Linked DNA regions of Homo sapiens. The protein of the gene in region 4 interacts with the protein of the main gene of each other region in a biochemical or structural test. Each region holds a gene or a part of one and is shown on either strand. Other genes may lie near its edges.

Evidence for each region.
Region 1: the proteins of GTF2F2 (region 4) and TCEA1 form a complex in vitro, tested with the Homo sapiens proteins (one study listed by BioGRID).
Region 2: the proteins of GTF2F2 (region 4) and KLF5 form a complex in vitro, tested with the Homo sapiens proteins (one study listed by BioGRID).
Region 3: the proteins of GTF2F2 (region 4) and MSX2 form a complex in vitro, tested with the Homo sapiens proteins (one study listed by BioGRID).

Annotation. Positions count from the first base shown.
Region 1 is NC_000008.11:53,966,054-53,970,506, forward strand, and holds the end of TCEA1 (transcription elongation factor A protein 1), read right to left. Parts: intron 4,411-4,453; coding exon 4,339-4,410; intron 2,060-4,338; coding exon 2,051-2,059; 3' UTR 503-2,050; downstream 1-502. Other genes in the region: LYPLA1-TCEA1 readthrough, read right to left, coding at 2,051-2,059, 4,339-4,410.
Region 2 is NC_000013.11:73,054,778-73,062,050, forward strand, and holds the start of KLF5 (Krueppel-like factor 5), read left to right. Parts: upstream 1-4,227; 5' UTR 4,228-4,550; coding exon 4,551-4,811; intron 4,812-4,904; exon of another isoform or gene 4,905-5,023; coding exon of another isoform or gene 5,024-5,062; intron 5,063-7,083; coding exon 7,084-7,273. UniProt on the Homo sapiens protein: Transcription factor that binds to GC box promoter elements. Activates the transcription of these genes.
Region 3 is NC_000005.10:174,727,582-174,731,396, reverse strand, and holds the end of MSX2 (homeobox protein MSX-2), read right to left. Parts: intron 2,239-3,815; coding exon 1,814-2,238; 3' UTR 501-1,813; downstream 1-500. UniProt on the Homo sapiens protein: Acts as a transcriptional regulator in bone development. Represses the ALPL promoter activity and antagonizes the stimulatory effect of DLX5 on ALPL expression during osteoblast differentiation. Probable morphogenetic role.
Region 4 is NC_000013.11:45,277,469-45,284,528, reverse strand, and holds part of GTF2F2 (general transcription factor IIF subunit 2), read right to left. Parts: intron 1,088-7,060; coding exon 968-1,087; 3' UTR 1-967. UniProt on the Homo sapiens protein: TFIIF is a general transcription initiation factor that binds to RNA polymerase II and helps to recruit it to the initiation complex in collaboration with TFIIB.

The DNA.
Region 1 (4,453 bases), on a different chromosome or scaffold from region 4:
TCTACTAAAAAATACAAAAATTAGCTGGGCATGGTGGCGGGCGCCTGTAATCCTAGCTACTTGGGAGGCTGAGGCAGGAAAATCGCTTGAACCTGGGAGGCATAGGTTGCAGTGAGCCGAGATTGCACCATTGCACTCCAGCCTGGGTGACAGAACAAGACTCCATCTCAAAAAAATAAAAAAATAAATAAATAAAGTCTAGTATTTTCCAATAGCAAGACTCACTATTTGGTCTCTCACATTAAATTAAGTGTACACATGGGATGCACTCACGTATTTACTCAGAACCTGCCATTCCATCCATCGCCAGAGGTCCAGGAAAAGATAAGAAAGAAAACATGCTCTGTAATGCTGCTGAATACTAGTTTTTACTGAAGACCAGGCTTCACTTAATTAAAACTGTACTTTAGAAATACCTTAGTAGTTGAGGGGACAGCAGGTGTGTGGTTAAACAAAAGGTAAAGCAAGCTTCATTGTCTAAATAAAATGACAAAATGTGATATATGTTTAACAACAAAAAAAACTTTATTGAATTACAAATTTTAAAATGGATCACTTAAAAGTGAGATTATTTTATTCTGAAACATTATTTCAAAAATGTACTTTGTTTTTGAAATAAAACAAAATCTTCAACTATGAACTGACAAAATAGAGGTGAGTTGGTACCAGTGGGCCAATTCTTAACACGGACATTTAAAAATGCTGCTTTCTGTATTACAACAAAATGATATGCAATAAGAAATTGGAAAAAGGGAGCAAAGGAGAGTGCAAAGCATGTACTGAGGTCTTTCTACGGGTGCCTGACAGAATGCAGATTCAGCATAAAATGTAGACTTTGCAACAGTGGCCTTTAAAGTATGCTAGAGCAAGTGTACCCTAGGGAACCTATGTCAAAACAATTTTTGTCTTACTCCAAACAGAAAAAATGGTACACACTTTAACAAAAGCAAAACTTAATTGTAAGATCTGTACTGTAAAGCTACTTGCTATAGCCCATATATTCAGTTTGTTCAACAATCTCACTCATGACAGAAAAAGTCAGCAAATAAGACTTGGGACAAAATTATTTTCTATCAGTCTCCACATGGAAAGACCACAGCTTTAATGAATTATACAATCCTTAAGATTAATCCTTGGTCAGTATAGATTTCCGAATCAAAATCTAGTCATGAACTGTTTACAATAGCTATACTACACTAAGATGCTAAACATTTTCTTTCCAGTATGTCTTCCTAAGAGGGGAAAAAAATAGTGGGAAGTTTTCATCTTTGCCTATGAGGGGATTTATGAAAAGCCTTCTAAACTACAACAGTGTTCTTCTGCAAAACTAAAACACATTATAAAGTCAAACAGGTAAATTAACAGGAAAACCAAACTGATCTCAATAAAGTCTTGTTTCCAAAAATCTATTAAGAACAAGTAATATACATGTACAAGAAATTACAAGAAATGATGATCACGGTTAGTTACAGATGCAAAATAATATCTAATATTCCAAGCTTGTGAACATAATAATTAAAATCAAATTCATAAGCTACCTCAAAATTATGTACATTTTAGATAAGCTGGTCAAGTATTATTTGAATACACACCATATTTGGTAAACCTAAAATTATATTACCTTTTCTCCTCCTTTAATATTTGTAGCTACATGCCAATATGGAAAAAAATGTATTTTCATTTATGTATTAATAACAGAGAGTAACAGAATTTCTACTGTGTATGTTTCACAGTGTAAAAGAAAAAAAGTTAAGGTATATTTTCCTTTAAGAAAGAAGAAATATTGCCAAGAGTTTAATTAATATCAACTTACTTATAAAAACAGAAAAAATATGTTTTGAAACAGGTACCATAAAATTATTATATGGTCTCCCTACTGATCTGAAACTACAGAAGGCATTTAAGGAAGGGATGTTAGGTCAAAAACAAAGTCTAACCCAAGTTGCTTTAAAAATTTGATTTGCAGGAAAACTAGTTGCTTGGCCTAGTTTAAAGCTAGTTACAAAATCCGTTTTCTTAATGGTCCAGATATTTTGCCAATTCTTCCAACTCAACAGAACTGTCAAAAAAGAAAAAATATTTTGTAAGACCTTTAAATACCAATAAGGTACATTCCCCATTTAATACAGCATACACCTGATATTGCTTTTAAAAAAGATGCATTTTTGAAAAAGATGCTGTATTTTTCACACATAATAATCACCTATCTTAAGTGCCTGACTTTCCCAACTTAGAACTACTAGGAACATACAACTAAAGAACTTGTATAAAACAATTTCAGCATTTTTATTAAATACCTCTTTATAATGTTTTTAAGGTTAAAAAAAAAAAAATAACAATTCCAAAATTGAACTTCTAAAATATGCCACTCTAGGCATCAGCTTTCTATCCTAAAATTGAACTTTCTTAAATTCAATTAAGTACTATGTCAAAACTTGTGTCACAAAGTGCATGTATTCAAAGCAAACTGCACTGTACACCTCATCACCATAATAAAAATGATCCATCAGCTGGGCACGGTGGCTCACACCTGTAATCTCAGCACTTTGGGAGGCCGAGATGGGCAGATCATGAGGTCAGGAGATCAAGACCATCCTGGCCAACGTGGTGAAACCCCGTCTCTACTAAAATACAAAAAATTAGCCAGGCATGGTGGTCCCAGGTACTCGGAAGGCTGAGACAGGGGAATCTCTTGAACCCGGGGCCACAGAACAAGACTCCATCTCAAACAACAACAACAACAAAAAAGATCCATCATGCAAAACAAATCCAAGAGAACAGGCCAAATTTTCTCAACACGATTGAAAAAGAAGGTGAATGTCCCTCTCCTAGACCAATGACAACTTCTGCAACCTGAGATGGGTAGGAAATACTGTTTCAAACCATGAAGACACTTTCAGTAGCAGTAATCTTTCCAGCTCAGAACTAAATCTTTGTACGTAATAAGGGTACTGGGCCGGCCACGGTGGCTCACGCCTGTAATCCCAGCACTTTCGGAGGCCAAGGCAGGCAGATAACCTGAGGTCAGGAGTTCAAGAGCAGCCTGGCCAACATGGTGAAACGCCATCTCTACTAAAAATACAAAAATTAGCTGGGCATGGTGGCACATTCCTGTAATCCCAGCTACTTGGGAGGCTGAGGCAGGAGAATCGCTTGAACCTGGGAGGCGAAGGTTGCAGTGAGCTGAGATAGCGCCACTGCACTCCAGCCTGGGCAACACAGTGAGGATCTATCTCAAAAAAATTAATGAATAAATAAAACAAAATAGGTACTGGCCCCAACCCCTTAAAGTGGAGTTGAAGAAGCCAAATGGATATCTTCGACATGGTTTGGGACTCTGGCCCAAATGGCTTCTAGTTCATTTCTGATTTTCAGAAAGTGCTTTAAGCTAAGTGAATAATTCAAAATGAGCATTAAACTGAAAAGTCTATGTAAGTATAAATGAAAAAAAAAAGAATCTTGTACAAACTTCAGAAAAACTAATAAAAATAGCCAGCATTTTTAGAACACCAACAATTATCAGGCACACTAAATATATTATCTCTACTCTTCATCACAATCCGAAATGTAGGTACTATTTACATTTAATACATAAGAACAATATAGTTCAGTAATGGGAAGTGGCAAAGGAGTTCAAAATCAGTTTGTATGATTCCAAAGACTAAACTCCTACCACGTAAGCCTCCCAAACTCACACCCTTAACATCCTCATCTATAATAATGATTAAAATGTTTTTAGTACTGATATGTATTTCTGCTCCCAAATTTAAATTTTATGCTTTTGTTTCACAAAATCCCTCAAGAATGAATCATTTAAATAATATAAACTTGCCTGTGTGGGACTAATTTCAAGAGCACACAGGCAATATGAAGGCTTAGTGAAAAGCCTACCAAATGACAGCAGTGCTCATCTGTAATTTCTAAAATAAACACTAAAATCATTGGGTCTGATTTCAACAAGGGAAAAAAAATTTTCCAAAATCAAAATCTATTAAAACAAGTAATACACATGTATAGATTTTCTGGAAGTACAAGAGTCAAAACAACTTAATGAATATAGTATAAATAGGACAGTGATATAATAATTGAACAGTTAAGATTCACTCCCCATTTCCTGCACCAAAACAAATAAAGGTGGTAAAGTCAAGTTAATACTCTTTATTTCTAGTAGGGTAACAAGATGGTATATTCCATTACAAGTAGTCAGGGAGTACAAGAGTACTGTATAGTGTGAGCATATCTGTATATATTTAGATATCTAGGCAGACCTATGAAAAGACCAGAAGAAATCTTTCTATTTTAAGTGAGTATATAATATGAATCCAAGAGAGTCCATACCTTCCATCGATTTCCACATTCATTACAGACAACAAATGTTGTCATTGGTTCATCAGCACTACGGGTTTGTACCTGCAGCAAAATTAAATTAAATGTACTTTTTGCAGTACTATTA
Region 2 (7,273 bases), about 28 Mb from region 4:
CATCTATAAATCAACATCTAAAAGAGTATTTCCGTGTGACCCATGCACGGTTCATTTGAGCATTCACAGGGTGTTCCCCACAGCCTGGTACATTACAGCTTTTGTCATAACATGAACAGCAATCGGCTCAAAACACTGCCCATTGTGATGCTGATGATGAGACCTCCCTAATGTTCTAAAAGATTGTTTGGTGTAACCACTTTAGCTCAGACCTTTCTTTTAACCTTGCCTATCATGTTTCGAGTCAGAATTTAAATACTGTGCAGTTTAAGCTACAATACGCTTGGCCTATAACTTGGTTCCAGGCATTTATATTTATGTCACTTTTGTCTACTTATTATACTAACAAGGTGGAAAAAGCAATCCCAGTCTCTCCAAAAGGTAAAACTCTCCTGTTTTTTTGGATATTATTAGAGTTTTAAAATTAGGCTAGATAAATTATAGTACCCTTAGGAATAAGTGCATAAAGGGAGTTTTATGAAATATTTTAAGAAGAACACATTTAAAAATCCAAACTGAAATATAAAATGTAATTTCTTAAGAACTGGAGGCAAGAGACATTACAAAAATAAAATATTAAATTGTTGTCTTAAGACATAATTTTAATTAATATAAATAGAAGTATTTAGTCTTATTTAAACTGCATATTTTTTCATCACAAAAGCAATGAACAGAGCATCTTCTCTCTTGTCTCGTAATCTTTTGAGTCAAAATGCTTTAAATTCCAACTAATCTCAGTTGAAGCTTCTATTTATCAGGCTATTTCCTTAATGACTTTTTTTCTGATGTGTGGCTTTAGGTGGTTGCCATTAATGAAAAAATACAAAGACTACAGATGTGAAATGTTGGAGAGGACAATAATTACAATAGTTTTAAGTTTTCACTGATACAGATTCTAACAGGGGTGTGCAATCAATGACTACCAAAAAGTCACTTTAATTAAATAATCTTACCCTAGAGAAGAGTGTGCTCCCGTATAAAGCTTTATTTTTCATTTTTATTCTTGTTCTTTTTTCTGTGGCCCAAGATCACTTGGCAATTTGATACTGATTTGGCAGAAATAAATATTCTATGAATATTTTTCTACTCAAAGTGAATACAGTTTTGTTGGCTGTGATACTCTATACCTCTTAATTTCAAGCTGTGACGTTTTTGCCAAACAACTGAATTTAGATTTGCCAAACAACTGAATTTAGATATTCCTTTTGCCGTGTCGTTGTGTGAACATTGCCCTAGTGATAGCTTCATATTTCCCTCATCTCATCATTCAGAAGCTATTTATCTATTTTTTTCCACTGCCTCCTTCAAACCCCCTCCCCCAACATTGAATGCCTGTTCAGCCCCCGCATATTCATCCGTATTTATTCCCGTAAAGATAGTGACACTTATGGTTTATTCTAAGACTAAATCTGTGTTGCCCAGTGACTAAGGACTTAAGCATGCACACTGCTTCTATGCTTACCCTCCTACCTAACTTGACTACTCAACATTTTTATTTCATTCCCTCAGAATCCCCTGTTTTGGCACAGTTCAGTTAACACACCACTGCCAGGCCACTAATTGATTTCTGAAACCTGACATTTGTTTTTTGTTTTCTCCTATCTTCCCTAATGGTACAGCACTACTAAGCGGGAAGGAATGCAAAGAACTAGAAAGTTCAAAGTAATTGAGGATCTGTCCATTCACACTGTCTGGCTTCAAGCCAATGTAGAACCTGGAACATTTGAAAAATATTTATCAAGTTTTAACCCTTTTTACTAAGTCGGTGAAACAGGTTTGCAGCTGTAGCATTTATGTTAAAAGCAACAGCAAGGAAACTTGGTCGAACATGTTCTTTATATGTTCAGAATCACATGGCAAATGTCTCCGAAAAGGATTACTTTCCAATTTCCGTACTATTGTACAGTGCTAAGCTAGTTATTTTCTGTGAGACTGCAGAGCAGGGCATTTCAGAGAAACTATTACTTAAAAGTGGCAGCCCTATTTCATGAATCTTTATGCCCAAAATGGAATTTTAAAACCTGCTACTGTATTGGAGCAAAAAGGAATATATTCAGTTACTATAAGAACCCCAACGCTAGCTTCATATCTATATTATGAAAAGTGGAAATATGAAAAATTAACAAGACTAAAAATATTAAAAACTTAGTTGTATGGTTTTTTTTTTGCAATGAAAAAGCTTTTGTAAATGAAAGCATGTTAAAAAGTGGTGTGAAATTATAGAAGCATTTCCAGTAAAATACATGGATTTTATTGCAGTGAAAACTTAGGTTGAAAGACCGGGCCACTGAAGCTCTCGTAAAAAGACAAAAGGAAAGGTCTAGATAGGTTTAAAAGCACATTAAGATACAGCTACCGAATGTATTAAATCTAAGTTAGATTTAGCTTAAAGTTACAAGAGCACAAAAGTTCTATTAAGAATTATCTACATCACATTTAGGTTTGATGTTATCAGAATTAAGTAACTAAAAATCTTTCAAAGCTCAATTTTTTAAAAGAGTTACATTAAATCCCATCCTAATTCTATAATCTGTTTCTAAGCTAATTAATTACATGATAGGTTTTACATTAGAGAAAAGCAGGACAGCTTTTTAAAGATGAAGATGGACAGCATGGGGCTGCTTGGTTAGAGAAAAACTTGCAAAAGCACTTATTAAATAATACTTTGATAACATGAAAGTAGTCATCAGCCATTCTCTGAAGGCAGTGATCACAGCTATAAAAATGAATCATGTGTCAACAGGAAGAGAAGGAAAAGGAGAAAAACCCAGTTTACAGCATAATTTTATATTTTCTAATAATAAATACATTTCTTTATGTGCATATTAATTTTCTACCCATTGAAAATGAGATCCATACCTTTGATAGATACACTCTTTGAAGTGAACGTTTTTATCCAAGACTTTTTTTTAAAGCTGTTTTACTCTGAAGTGATGAATAGGCTGTGGTATATGTAAAACTGTCTAATGGTATATTGTGTGTCAACATATGTACATTTGTAGTAATATCACAGGCATTTTTATTGCAGTTTATTGTTCCGTCCTCCCAATAAGCCAGATAAAATCATGTACAAGAACATTAAGGATTAAGGGAAGTGGTTTCCTTAGGTGATTGCTGGCAAAAATTCACCCTCCCATTATAACAACATAGTAAATGGATGGTAATATATTTGGCTATTACTTTCCAACAAATTTGGATTCCCAGTTTTCAGAGCTGCTCTGTGTCTATGTTTGCGGCTTTTTGATTGTCTCTTCGTAGGAAAAGGTGCCACAATGTGAGGTAAATGTGCTAGGTTTCTGCTTTGTAAATATTAAAGTCCATTTTTTGAACATACAGTGCTAGCAAAAATAAGTCAAAGATGTAATGTCTATTTAAATACACGTTTGAGCTAGTCGTGCTTAAATTAGATTCCATGCTTCGGCTAGAATCAACACGGCTTAAATATTAGAAACTTCAAAATTCATATGGCCCAAGCCCTCCTCCCCACACACGGATGGGAAGTAGAAATGTGTGGGAAAACGTCTAGCAATTAAAATCCTGAAGGAGTGGGAAAAACCCAGGCTTTTATGCAAGGATCTGAAAAAACGCTTGCCATCAAATCTTTTATTCAGGCATTCTGAATTTGCCTTGTTAAACGGATACACTCACTGCTAAAGATACACAGGGACAAGAGCTGTTTTAAATTTGTTTATCACACCGCCCCTAGTTTTCTGCTAAAGAGAAGTACATTTTGGATATTTAAAAGTACACACTCATTAGACAAATCTCTAAAAGCCTCAGCGCCCCTACCTAGCTGCCTTCTGGGTTTCAGCTTTTGAGTTTCAGGTCCTTGCACAACACCTAAGACGTGCAATACTCTTTTTCTTCCTAATCCTGGCAGAGAACAGTGCGAAGAGATCTCCCTCCGCGTCTCCACCCTAATTCCCCCTCTTCCCAGATTCCACCCGCTCCGCTACTTCCCTCCGCCCCCGGCTCCGCCAGCCCAATCTGTCAGAGAAGTTGTGTACAAACTGCGCGGCCGCCCTGCGCGCGAAGCTCGTGGCCCGAGAGGGGTGCGGTCGGGCCGACGGAGGCGGGGCCCTGGCTGCCTCTCTCCCTGCTCATAGGCTGGCCGCTCAGGCCTGGCCGGCCTCGGGGCCTCGGGATTCGCGGCGGCGCTGCCAATCAGGCGATCGGGCCCCGCCCCCCCGGAGTTGGGTGAAATAGAGGCGGGCGTCAAGTGTCAGTAGTCGCGGGGCAGGTACGTGCGCTCGCGGTTCTCTCGCGGAGGTCGGCGGTGGCGGGAGCGGGCTCCGGAGAGCCTGAGAGCACGGTGGGGCGGGGCGGGAGAAAGTGGCCGCCCGGAGGACGTTGGCGTTTACGTGTGGAAGAGCGGAAGAGTTTTGCTTTTCGTGCGCGCCTTCGAAAACTGCCTGCCGCTGTCTGAGGAGTCCACCCGAAACCTCCCCTCCTCCGCCGGCAGCCCCGCGCTGAGCTCGCCGACCCAAGCCAGCGTGGGCGAGGTGGGAAGTGCGCCCGACCCGCGCCTGGAGCTGCGCCCCCGAGTGCCCATGGCTACAAGGGTGCTGAGCATGAGCGCCCGCCTGGGACCCGTGCCCCAGCCGCCGGCGCCGCAGGACGAGCCGGTGTTCGCGCAGCTCAAGCCGGTGCTGGGCGCCGCGAATCCGGCCCGCGACGCGGCGCTCTTCCCCGGCGAGGAGCTGAAGCACGCGCACCACCGCCCGCAGGCGCAGCCCGCGCCCGCGCAGGCCCCGCAGCCGGCCCAGCCGCCCGCCACCGGCCCGCGGCTGCCTCCAGAGGACCTGGTCCAGGTAGGAAGAGCCGCTCCCCTCCCACCGCAGCACTCCCGGGCTCGGGCGTGTCCCGTTGCTGCGACTCGCGGGCGACAGGGGCCGCTCCAGGCTGGGGCGTGCGTCGGGGCGCACCGGAGCCGGTGCTGGGTGGGCAGCCCCGCCCTGCACGCCTGGCCGGGGCCCCGCGTTTCGCTGAGAGTAAATGGGGGGGGGGGCCGGGGGTGGGAAGGATGGAGGGGAATCTGCCCCGGCGGGTCGGCCTGGGAGAGGTAAGAGGGAGGGAACTGGGTGCTCACGCGCACCTTAGTTGTTTTTCTTACACTTGAGGGACGAAACCTTGTACCTTACGCTCAGTTTTACTTAAATTACGCCTTCGCCTGTACCGCTCTCCAATGCCAAGGCATTGGAGCCCTCCCCCCCATCCCCATCGTCTCGGGTTAAGTAGAAACGCAAATTGGGGTGCTGGGGAGAGGTTCCCCAAGGTTTCATACCCGGTGGCTCAACCTGCTTTAGAAGCGATTGCGGGCCGCGTTTGGAAAATGAGAGTTAGGAAAGCTAAGGTTGTGTCGGAGCGCTTATTTTTCCTTAAAAAAAAAAAAAAAAAAAAAAGACCGGGGGTGTTGTTTTCTTCGTGTGCACGTAAATTTCCTCCCGGAGCCGCGTTGAAAGCTGGCAGTTGGCTTTTACACTTGCCCAGCAGCCGAATTAGAGCAACCGCCTGTTTCTTTCGCCCACGCAGGGAGTCATATAGCCCAGAAAAAACTTCCCGGGACTTTTAGCCTGTCCCAAGGAAAAAAAAATTGGAAACATACCCACATGCAAACAGCTGGAAGAGCTAAAATCAGAAACCACTAACCGCCGCGGGAGCGCAGTGCACGAAAGGGTTTAGTTCAGTTTATTTCAAGACACTTCATTTAGTAGCTCTTTGGCGTGTCGTATATTTGCTACCCAGCGCCTACTCCGTGGGGTCTGCCAGGGTCTTGCTGTGAGAGGGCAGTGGCGTTTGTCAGAGATGTGACTCACATGATGAGAGCGTTAATTTTTATTTTTAAATCATGTCTATCCGGGAAACCCCGTCCGCATCCACACCAAGGTCCGAGATGAAACGCATTTGAAATGAAGTAGTAGCAGAAAATGACTGTCTTATTTACCTGTTAAGGTGCCACAGCTAATATATGCGCCATTCCATCTAGTTGGTTTTCTTATCTTTCGAAATTTCCTTTTCAGTGTTAAAAAATGTAGGCTTAAGTTATACTAGGAGAGAAGATAGCTGGAAAAGGCTTGAGGCGACTTGTTACAAGCTGGTTTATAGCCTAGAAAAGAGATCACCGTTTGAAAAGTATTTGGTTATTTCAGTTTGTCAATTTTCTGCTCTGGAGGCACTAAGAAGATAAGGGATGACTGAGCTTTTTACAGAGTAGGGGGGAATGTAGCATTGGCCCACTGAGAAGGACATGATAAATGTTTTGCTGATGACTGTGCTAGGGATACAGCAGCCTCCCCACCCACGGGCTCCTTAGCAGCACTCTACCAAGGGAGTGATTTTCCCCTAGGTAATTAAAGATCTGTTTTAGATAGGGATATGAATAGGAACATTTCATTATCATATTAACCAATTACAGGATCTGCTGATGAAAATCAACATTTAGATCAAATATTGAATGTGAAATTGTTTTGTTTCAGTGGATACAAGGTTTTGCTTAGAACGTTGTGTTTAATTTCTCATTGAACTGTAAACAAGAAAAGACACTGAAATAGCCAAATAATATTTTTATATTACTTTTGAAGTATCTAGTCAAGAAAAGAAACCTGTGCAATATTTTAAAGGTTTGCATCGTTTTTTCTATTAAAAAAAACCACGCTTTTTAATGTTTGTGACTTAAACAGAATTGAGGTAGTTTGGCAACATTTCAATACTGTACTCTAATTGCAAACTTAACTGTGTAATGGGGCAGGGAATCCTGCTTGTACAGGGGTGATGGTACCTTGTTATTGCATCAGAATGGAATGTTTTAAGTTTGCTTTCTTTTTTATTCTTGATTTGCGTCTTTCACTTTTGGGGGTGATTGGGGGAGCAGTTTTACCAGTTACACAGAGTTTCATAAGGTTTTGGTCAACCAGTTATTACACAATCGACAAAATAAGCCTGATATGTTTATAAGCAACACTGAGGAGTTTGCCCTAGTACCTTACACAGGGATTGGGGGAATTTTTAGTAGGCGCCGATTGTTCGTTCTTCCCGAGATGGTGAATCAGGTGGATTATGCATTTTATATCTCTTCTTTTTTAGACAAGATGTGAAATGGAGAAGTATCTGACACCTCAGCTTCCTCCAGTTCCTATAATTCCAGAGCATAAAAAGTATAGACGAGACAGTGCCTCAGTCGTAGACCAGTTCTTCACTGACACTGAAGGGTTACCTTACAGTATCAACATGAACGTCTTCCTCCCTGACATCACTCACCTGAGAACTGGCCTCT
Region 3 (3,815 bases), on a different chromosome or scaffold from region 4:
GTAAACGGAATGCGATTTCACACACTCCTGAAAGGGGAGCCGGCTTCCATCCCCCAGCCCAGCGAATGCGCCTCGTTACCATGTCCACTTGCAAACAGCTATAAGGACCCTTTTCCTCAGTTTTAAGTTTGATGTGTTGGTAGCTGGGAGATTTCAAGTTCAAGATTTTCCCTTGATCATGTACAAATGATTTAGATGCTGGCCGATCTCCGCCTCACCACTTATTTAAAGCTTATCTTTCACTGTACTTTTTCTGAAAAACTCCTCGCAGCAATTCCACCTCTTTTCCATAAGTAACAAGCTGCCAGAGGAAACATTTCAAAGTATTTCAGTAGTTTCAGTTCACTCCCCACCACCACCAATCACCCCAACATGGCTGAATCTGGCCACAACTCTTGGTTGACTTACATTAAAATATTAAAAAAGACCAGCTTCCCCCTCATGTGGGTAGCACTTTCGAGCTAAGCCCAGCTAAGAACAGAGAACACCTCTTAAAATAATTGTGAGTTTGGACAAACTTTACTGCAATAAAACAAATGCTTAATTTAATTCAGAATAAGAGATAACTCTTCAATAAAATATATCAAATTGTACAAGCACCCTTTCAAAGGGATAAAGGTATACCGGAGGGAGGGGACAGATGGACAGGAAGGTGAAATACCAGGGAACTTAATGGGCTGTTTGACAATCCCATTTTCACCAAGTCAAAACATGGCTTTACCTTCTGCCCCCCAACATGTAAAAAAGTATATAAAATTTTCTAATAAGTTTAGGACATACAACAGGTACACACACAGAGAAAGCATATTTTTTTTTCTTTCTGGATCTACTAATTGTTCAAGAATATTTAGCATATAGGTAATGGTTACAAGATACTCATTTTTTAAGCAGAAAATTACTAAACCCCCACCCAAATCACCTTTGCAATCTGTGAGGATGAATGTACCTAGTATTTCTCAGAAACCATCAATTCCTCTCAACAGGTTTTAACATTTTACTCTCCAATTATCTGAAATAAAGTTACCAACAGCCTTGAGAAGAATTAGGAAGTATTTCTAATTTTCTACCTCACCTCCAGGCAGTCTCAGGATTCTTCTCATCCCAGGTATTGGTCTTACAAAAATATTCTTAAAAAAGGAAAAACTTTAAAAATATGTGTGTGGTGGGGCGGTGGGGGGCGGGGGAGAGATAGGAACAACTGTAGTATATAAAGAGGTTTCTTTTAATGCAAGTAAAATGCAGAAATATGATGTGTCCCCTTCACTTTGAATAATCTCTCCATATCTAATATTTTCTGTGTGCATTGTGTCTGTTTCTTTGTTTTCCATAAGCAGAAGTCAATAATCCCGTAAAAATCATTGACTTTAGCACATTTTGCAAATAATTTGTCTCCCTCTTTAAGAAAATACAACAAATGGACTTACACAGTGTCTTTTGGGAAGGTGAGATATAGAAAAAAAGCACATATGTATATAAATTTTGCCTTTTAAAATAATTTGAATTTTTACGTCTGCTGTATAAAAATGTATTATATTTTATTATATATATATATTTATACATAAAAACCATCAGAGCCAATCTTTGTGAAAGGAAAAGGGGGCATCTGGAAGATTACACCAAGAAAACAGGGCTTGGTGCCTCCGCCTACAGAACAAATTTCAGCTATGTCGTGTGGCCCTGTCAGCCTAGCCGCTTAGGGTGGTGCACGCAGGGTTAGCAGAGCAGGAGTACTGGCTGGTACTGCCTTCGTGGAGAGGGAGAGGAAACCCTTTGAAACAAGCATCCATCATGGAGTCTATTGATCTGGTCTTCCTTAGGACAGGTGGTACATGCCATATCCCACTGGCGTGGCATAGAGTCCCACAGGCGGGATGGGAAGCACAGGTCTATGGAACGGGTAGGATGCTCCATATATGGACGCTGCCTGCAGGGGCGAGCTGATGGGGAAAGGGAGACTGAAGCTGGAGGGCAGCATAGGTTTTGCAGCCATTTTCAGCTTTTCCAGTTCTGCCTCCTGCAGTCTTTTCGCCTTGGCCCTTCGGTTCTGGAACCAGATTTTGACCTGGGTCTCTGTGAGGTTCAGAGAGCTGGAGAACTCTGCACGCTCTGCAATGGAGAGGTACTGTTTCTGACGGAACTTGCGCTCCAGGGCGAGGAGCTGGGATGTGGTAAAGGGCGTGCGCGGCTTCCGATTGGTCTTGTGTTTCCTCAGGGTGCAGGTGGTAGGGCTCATATGTCCTAGAGAACAGAGAGAGGAGCGGATTAGCAAAAGAAAGTTACATTAAAATAATACTAAAAAAAACCCATCTCCCCCGTCATCTCTCTAGGTTTTTTCCTTTCGGGCCTCCCCTCTCAACTGAAAGCACTTAGCTTTAAAAAAATCTATATATACATACATATACACACACACACACACACACACACACACATATCTATGTATGGAAAGACATACTTTGTTTCATCTTTGAAAAAGGTACCTTTGTCAAAACTATGTGTGTTTCTTGGGGGGAGGGGGACCATATATAAATGGGTAAGTTGCTTCGTTTTTTAAAAATGAGTTTTTTAAGAAAAGTTTTGGAAATGTAATGGTGTAACTGAACCTTCTATATGGAAAACAAACAGCATTAGAGATAACAGAAATAGAACATTTAATGTAAGACAAGGGAATCAAGTGGTCGGTGAGAAATGAACCGCTATCTCTTCTGAGCATAATTTATCTTCTCTTTAAAAATGGGAGACCAGGTTCATGATTAGCCCAGCCTCCCTTGGACATGGAGACAATCACATATGGGAAGGAAAATGAAAAAGGTTTTAGCAACCGGGTTAGCTGTTTCCCTTGGTCTCCTCTCTGAACCAGAAAAAGTGGATTGCGTCAGCATATTTATGAAGGATAATCGTGCAGATAAGGTCTGTGGTAAATTAATAGCATCTTTGAATTTGGGGGCAGTCCCACGCAATAAACAGTCACAAGCTGTCATTGCATCCAGTCCACAGATTATAAAATCTGAACATCATTTTACAGATCTGGATGTGGGATAAGGTTCTTGGCTGGGCGCTTCTGTAATATAAACTTTACTAAGACGAAGGGAAAAATTAGCTAGCCCATAAATGTAAATGTCAGGGGAAATCATGCTGCCTCCAAATTGAGAGCACGTGATGACATCTTAGTCATCCCCTCTACCCATTCTATGGCTTCGGGCAAATGTGTAAATGATTTGTTTGTCAGGGGGAAAAACAAGCAAAATAAAGGTATGCCAACAGCATCCAGACTCCACATTTAAAATGGATTCAATTACAGCAAATCACGGACTGGGACATCCTTGTGATTCCATAGCATCAACTAACTTTGGGCTTGTCTTCCTCAAGGGTGGGTGGGCGGAGGAGGATAGAGCTGTGGTGATAGAATACTTAACAATTAATTTTCTGCATTTGGCTTTTACGAGCTATGCTAATTTTCCAAATGTGGCCACAGTATTAACTCTAATGTATTCATGGGAGAATGTTGCATTTCTTGTTTAGTTACTTTGGTGGCCCAAGAAAGAGTTTACACTTCATACTTGAGGGTGACACAGCACAAGTCCCAACCCAGCTTCCATTTCCAACAAGAGATGGATTTGTTCCAGTGTCGCATTATTACCCATCACTTTACTGAATCAAAAAGAGATAAGAGGCTTTGTAACCAACCAAAGAACAGAAATCTGGGAAAGGGAAGGATAAGAAACTACCATAAAAGTCTATACTTTTGCATTTGCTAATCCCTAAGTTACTAGACAGCCGGGGAGCCAGCTTCTTAATTTACAAATTAACAACACTGT
Region 4 (7,060 bases):
ATGATTTTGGATCGCTTAATATATAATATTGTGTTGTGCTAGAAAAAACTAACATATACATGTATTGTTTTCATTTAAAAATTAATTAAAGAGAAAGAGAAAAGCAACATTTTAATGCCCCAGGAATTGAAACTAACGTTTTCTGTCTCGGCTGGACCCCTACGCCCATCTTTTGATTTGCTGATATCATTTGCCATGTGATGGTCAATACATGTCTGCTGGGTAAGCAGTAAAATTCTGGGGGCAAGCCAGTTTTGAGAAGCTTATAATCTGACTGGGGGAGACATATCTTCAAATTTTGGAAAGATATTTAATTTCTAATTATCTTAAAAGCAAATAAAAGAAACATCAACTGACCATGATCCTGCACATTTCTCATCTCAGCATCACTACGGTAAAATAAGCCAATGATGAACACTGCCATTTCACTACAAACTCTCTCCTTTTATTAACGTTGAGTATGAACACGAAACGTGATCACCTGTTTAAAAGAAAAACACCGCTTTGTTCTTTGACAATTTCAAAATAAGGAACTTTGGGTTTTTATTCCTTTTAAGAGTTTCTGTAGTTGACTGTTTTTTTCTTGCTATACAATTCTCCTTGGATCTGTATTACCTCAGCTCCTTAGATACGGCAAGGGTAGAGAGTCCTCACTTAAAAAAATTTCCTAATTGTACACATTAAAAGCTAATATTTAAGAAAAACCCTCTTAATCCTCCAACCCCTATTCCTACTGTGAATAATCTGGTTTAATACAAGTTAAGTCTATAAATAAATCTGTTCTTTCTCCTCAAAAAAACAGTTAAGAAACTTTACAAGAATTACAGGTTTAAAAAATTTACCGAGAGAAATCAAAGTACTGTCACTTAACCCCTATTAACATACGGTGTTCAAGCCTTCCAGTATCAGCGCCTTTTGCATAGCATCGCTGCTAGTCGTTTCACTAGCATGCTGGCTAGGAGTCTTCTTAGTCACTCTTTTCTTCTCCTTGATAGTGTCTGTACTCTGGCTTCAGCTCCCATGTGTTTTTGTGGATCCCTTTTACATTCTGAACACCAATTTCTTTTAAGATTTCCTTCAGGTACACCTAAAACAAAAACAAAACCCCTAACAAATGAGATTATAAATGCAGGGGACAAAACTTAAAATAAGATGATATGCCAAAGCACATATGCAAGCCATAAAAATTATGATCCTAAAAGCTCAGCAAGATTTCTCTATAAGGAGGTTCAATAAACTGCCTTTTGATTCTACATGTGCGACATGGTAACTGCACTAAATATATGATCATGTGCATTAAAGGAGTTGAAAGTCCTGAATGCCAACAACTTAAAAGCTAAAACAAACAAACAAAAAAAACACAAAAAACACTACATGAAATACACGAAAAAATTACTGGTCCTCACTCAGTGTGACACGGTACACCAAGGGTAATCTGCCCTTGAGTTCAGTGGCCTCATGGGACTCAGTTCACAGATTGAAACCAGTAGTTTCAGGAGCAGTAGCATATAAAAAAAATGAGCAACATTTTTGAGAATATTCTATCAAGCAGGCATATGACAGGTATTCAGAATTCTCAGTTCTAAGGTGAGTTCTCAAATTTGTTTTTAGGCCACCCACTTATTTTTTCCTATGTGAGAAGGAGAGTTGTTATTTGTATTTACTACTATTTGTACTTTAGCCAAGCTTGCCAACACAGATAAGGGAGTAAGAAGTGATAATAAGGCCGGGCTTGGTGGCTCACGCCTGTAATCCCAACACTTTGGGAGGCTGAAGTGGGCAGATCACCTAAGGTCAGGAGTTCGAGACCAGCCTGGCCAACATGGTGAAACCCCGTCTCTACTAAAAATACAAAAATTAGCCAGGCATGGTGGTGGGAACCTGTAATCCCAGCTACTAGAGAGACTGAGGCAGGAGAATCACTTGAACCCAGGAGGCAGAGGTTGCAGTGAGCTGAGACTGTGCCATTGCACTCTAGCCTGGGCAACAACAGTGAAACTCTGTCTCAAAAAACAAATAAATAAATAAAGTGATAAGAAGACATCCCCTAAAACTATCAGGGATGCAGCCTTGTGTTTGGCTTCTCCAAAGAAAAGAGTCATATTATGGTGTTTTAGGTCCCTAAAAATTCAATAAACATTTACTAAATGATTACTATGGTCATGGAAATGATGGCTATGTTAAGTGTAATATGAAACTAGACCTTTGCTTGCCAATGCTGAAGGCCAAAAAGCATTCCACAATAAGCTGACCAATATAAATTACAGAATTTCCTTCTTGGAGAAGAAAGGAAAGATAATAATATTAATTATTATTATCATTATTATTTTGAGATGGAGTTTTGCTCTTGTTGCCCAAGCTGGAGTGCAGTGGCATGATCTCGGCTCTCTGCAACCTCCGCCTCCCAGGTTCAAGCGATTCTCCTGCCTCCTCCCAAGTAGCTGGGATTACAGGCGCATGCCACCACGCCCAGCTAAATTTTTTGTATTTTTAGTAGAGATGGGGTTTCACCATGTTGGCCAGGCTGGTCTCGAACTCCTGTCCTCAGGTGATCCACCCACTTCGGCCTCCCAAAGTGCTGGGATTACAGGCCTGAGCCACTGCACCCAGCCAAGATAATTATTTAAAAGCGACTCTTTTGTTGTTGTTGCAGAACAAAGCAATCCAACAATAATTTGTGTGCGTGTGCTTCAAAGAACTAGTTACGGTATGATGATGACTCATCCCATTGATGGAAGATGTAATTTTTCTTATTGATTGAAGTGAGGCATTAATAAGAAAAATGGCTGAGAAGCTCTTGTCTGTATATTTAAGGTAGTGCTTTTCTCTAGCATGGTGCTAGACCACCTGCATCAGAACCCTGTGGGGAGCTTGTTAAATGAGACACAGCTTGGGCCTACTGAATCAAAGTCTCTTGGGCTAGGCCCAGGAATCTGCATTTTAACAAGTGCCTAGGCGACTCATGTAACTATATACTAAAGTTCCACCACATCTGGCTTAAGGTTCTTCCAGTTCTGATACTCTAGGATCTTTGAGTCCTTAGTGTGTTGCTTCGTTCTCTGAGCCTCATGTTTGCTGTAGAGTACGTGTTACCAACATAATCTAATGCCACTTTACACTGACTGATATAATGCTCTAGAGTTCATAAAGTCCTTTTAGTTAGGGGTAGGTTGTCACCTAGAAACATAATAGCTGATTAGTACTGGAAGTATACAGAGGTTCCTTCAGGATGGCTCAGCTCTCTCGTGGGCAGCCTTCCCATGCCAGCAGCCAAGCCCCAGCAGATGGCAGCAATGAACCAAATGAGCCCTGGGTTCCCCCGAGGCTTGCCTACCTCCCACACCTTATACAGTTGGCTTCACTAGCAGACCCGTGTGAATGAGTAAGCATAAAGGCTTGAGATATCTAGGTAATATAAAATGCAAGTCTGCCACCTGCTATTTCAAATTACATTTAAAAAACAGGACACTGTTCATAAACTACTTTCTAATTGAACAGGATTCATAAATGGAAAATGATTGGTTAGGCACAAATGATTCTCTGTTTAGGTGCCAAGAATGACATCTTTGTAAAATTCCAAAGAATGGTTTATTATGAGACTGGCTAAGACGATGTTGCACAAACAACCATACAATTGTGGATGCACTGCAATGGGTCAAAAATGAAAAGAACAATTGCCAGGAGCATTTTAGTAGCTCCATAGAAAAGAAGCTCTCCTGACTTCAAGTCTAGTGTGCCCATTTATAATCTAGGCCCAGAAAATGAAAATCCTAAAAAGGGTTAAACAAAAAATATTAATAAAGTCTGAAGTGTACAAATTCAGTTGTTTTCATGTCCACCCTCATTTTGGCAATCTAGTAGAACATATGGAATTCTTTTTATAAACGAAGGTGTCATTCTTTTTTCCTTGTAACAATAAGAATGGAATGAGATGACCATAGTCAGTCAATTTCTCAAGCAACAAAATGCAATCAGGGTCACAATGTACTGTGATCAGGGGGTAGGGGACACAAACTTCCTGATTTTTAGGATGTTCTAAACTGCAACCTAAGACCATTTTACTCTAATCAAATAAATTAGCTTGGCAGGGAAGTAGGTATAAAACATTAGCAGAGAAAGTAGTAGTGACGATAGGGAAAAACAAGGTCTCTGAAGGGAAAATCTCTAAAGGGAAGACATGGACAGAGAACAGAAAGAGCACATGTCCTTCCTCTGTCTAAAATATTCTAATGACTTCCCCGTTTGGGCTACACATTAAATTCCAAACGCCTTTGTAGGCATCCACTCAGGTCTGCCTTCTCCCTTTAGCCTCATCTTCCAACACTCCCCCTCACGCATGCTTCCCATTTCTGCATCTGCGTGCTTCTGGGTTTTTCCCATATGTTGTTTCCCTTCCTTGTAACGTTTATCTCCTTTCCTCAAATCTGGACCCCTCATTCTTTAAGACTAGGCTCAAATGTTACTTTCTCAGAGAAACTTTCTCTAACAGCCTTACCTTAGATTTACATTTCACACCGCACAACCTTCGATGGTAGCTCTTATTATATTATAATCCTTTATTTATATGCCTTGCTCTCCTCTTAAATCACATGCTCCTTTTTTGGGGGGGGCGGGGGGACGGTGGGAACAGAGTTTCACTCTCGTTGCCCAGGCTGGAGTGCAATGGCATGATCTTGGCTCACTGCAACTTTTGCCTACTGGGTTCAAGTGATTCGCCTGCCTCAGCCTCCCGAGTAGCTGGGATTACAGGCATGTGACACCACGCCTGGCTAATTTTGTATTTTTAGGAGAGACGGAGTTTCTCCATGTTGGCCAGGCTGGTCTTGAACTGCTGACCTCGTGATCCACCCGCCTCGGCCTCCCAAAGCGCTAGGATTACAGGCATGAGCCACCGCGCCCGGCCACATGCTCCTGTTATAGTGCCTGCGTGCACATCACAGAGACTCAGTGTACTTATGCAAAGTGAATAAGGCGTGCTTAAGACTAACAAGGCAGCTAAGAGGACTGCTGGGTGGTGGTGGGGATATCACTAAGAAGGTCCATAAAAATAGACCATTCAAATTCTAGTTCAGTTTTAGAACTCAAGCAGTGATCTAGTTTGAGAAACAAAGTTTACTGACTAAACTGTACTACGTGAATTTGAATGTCACTTATTACTAAAATCTGCATTTTAGTGCTAAAATATTGTTGGTGACAGAGCCAACTGAAGAAGAGGTTTTAAAGGTTCTACCAGGATTGAAAATTACTTGGTAATCTTATTTCTCTTTTTAACATTCATATATTCACTCAAACATTTATTCCAGCACCTACAATGTGCCAGGTGGAATGGTAGACACTCAGTCTTCCTCTCAGAGTTCACAGTTTAAGATTAGTGCAGAGGATGGGGGCAAAGAAAAAGGCATATTACGCCGGGTGTGATGGCTCACGCCTGTAATCCCAGCACTTTGGGAGGCTGAGGCGGGTGGATCACCTGAGGTCAGGAATTCAAGACCAGCCGGCCAACATGGAGAAACCTCGTCTCTACCAAAATTACAAAAATTAGCTGGGCGTGGTGGCAGGCCCCTGTAGTCCCAGCTATTCAGGAGGCTGAGGCAGGATAATCACTTAAACCCAGGAGGTGGAGGTTGTAGTGAGCTGAGATCGCACCACTGTACTCCAGCATGGGCAACAGAGCAAGATTCCACCTCAAAAAAAAAAAAAAAAAAAAAAAAAGAAAAAGAAAAAGGCAAATTGGCAGGTAATCAGAAAATATAACAGAGGCATGTGTACAGGGTATTATGAGACCACTGAGAAGGGGGCACCTAACACAGCCCGCATAGAGATGTTAGGTTCTTTGAGGATAGATATTTGATCATTCGATTTGAACAGCAATTCTGTGTAGAGATCTAGAGAAAGGAGTTCTCCTCCTCTTACTTAAACACTGAGTGACTTTCCAATTAAATCTTTTGTCTAACCACCTGTATTTGAAACAGAGGATTCTAGAACTGAGTAGATCACTTTTATGTCACATAGGATTGGGGATATGTCTTATTACAGACTATGTGCCAAGCTGCAGCACAAGATCTGAATAAACTGGCTCAGGTCCAGCAATTCTTCATCAAAAGGATGTGTGGGAGAGAATTTACGGCAAGTCTGAATGCAGAGAAATAAGGGATAGAACATCACAGCTTTCTTGGAAGGAAATGGCAAGGCACATACTTGATCAAAGAGGTCAAGTGATTAGGATGTTTGTTTGCATTTGTGGGTCAAGTTAAAACTGCGGTGGGCAAAAAGCCAGAAGTCCATGGATCAACATCCTAATTGGCCCCCAAGACTGAGACAAACCTATAGTCATAAGGCACAGTAGCCTATTATTTTAGTCTTTTGCTCCTTCCTTCCGTCCCTCCACCCCCTACCATTTCTCATATCATCTTTTCTTCTCCTGCTCTGTCAAACAAATGGAGGACTTAATCTGCATTTCATCTTATCATGCATTTCAGTGATAAGCATAATAATAAATCAATTATATCTAAATTTGTAGATGTTCATTAAAAACATACACCTTTGACAGGGAGATGATCACCAACTACTAATGCTTTAAGTAAGTTAACAATATGACCCTGTTAGTCTTCCAGTCACAAAATCTTCCCAAAATGGTGAGACTGAATATTCAATATGCAAACTTACACTGATGATGGCACTGATTAATGCAGCTGACAAAGGAAAATGCACTATATGCTTTTTATAAAGTGATCCAACCACAAGAAGGGCATTATCGATTCTGTGATAATTTCAAAGTATCATTTCATCTTTACATGATTTTTGTGTGAATGACTGCAACTCCTTTAAGAGATATCAACAGAATGAAAACTTACTGATGAAGATGTTAGTGACTTCAAGGCAAAACATTCTTCTGTTAAAATATAAACTACACATTAGGAAGAAACTGTGATCAAACGTGATATAGTTTGGATGTGTGTCCTCATGAAAATATCATATTGAAATGTAATCCCCAGTGTTGGAGGTGAGGCCTGGGGAGAGGTGATTGGATCATGGGGACGGAACTCTCATGAATTAGCAC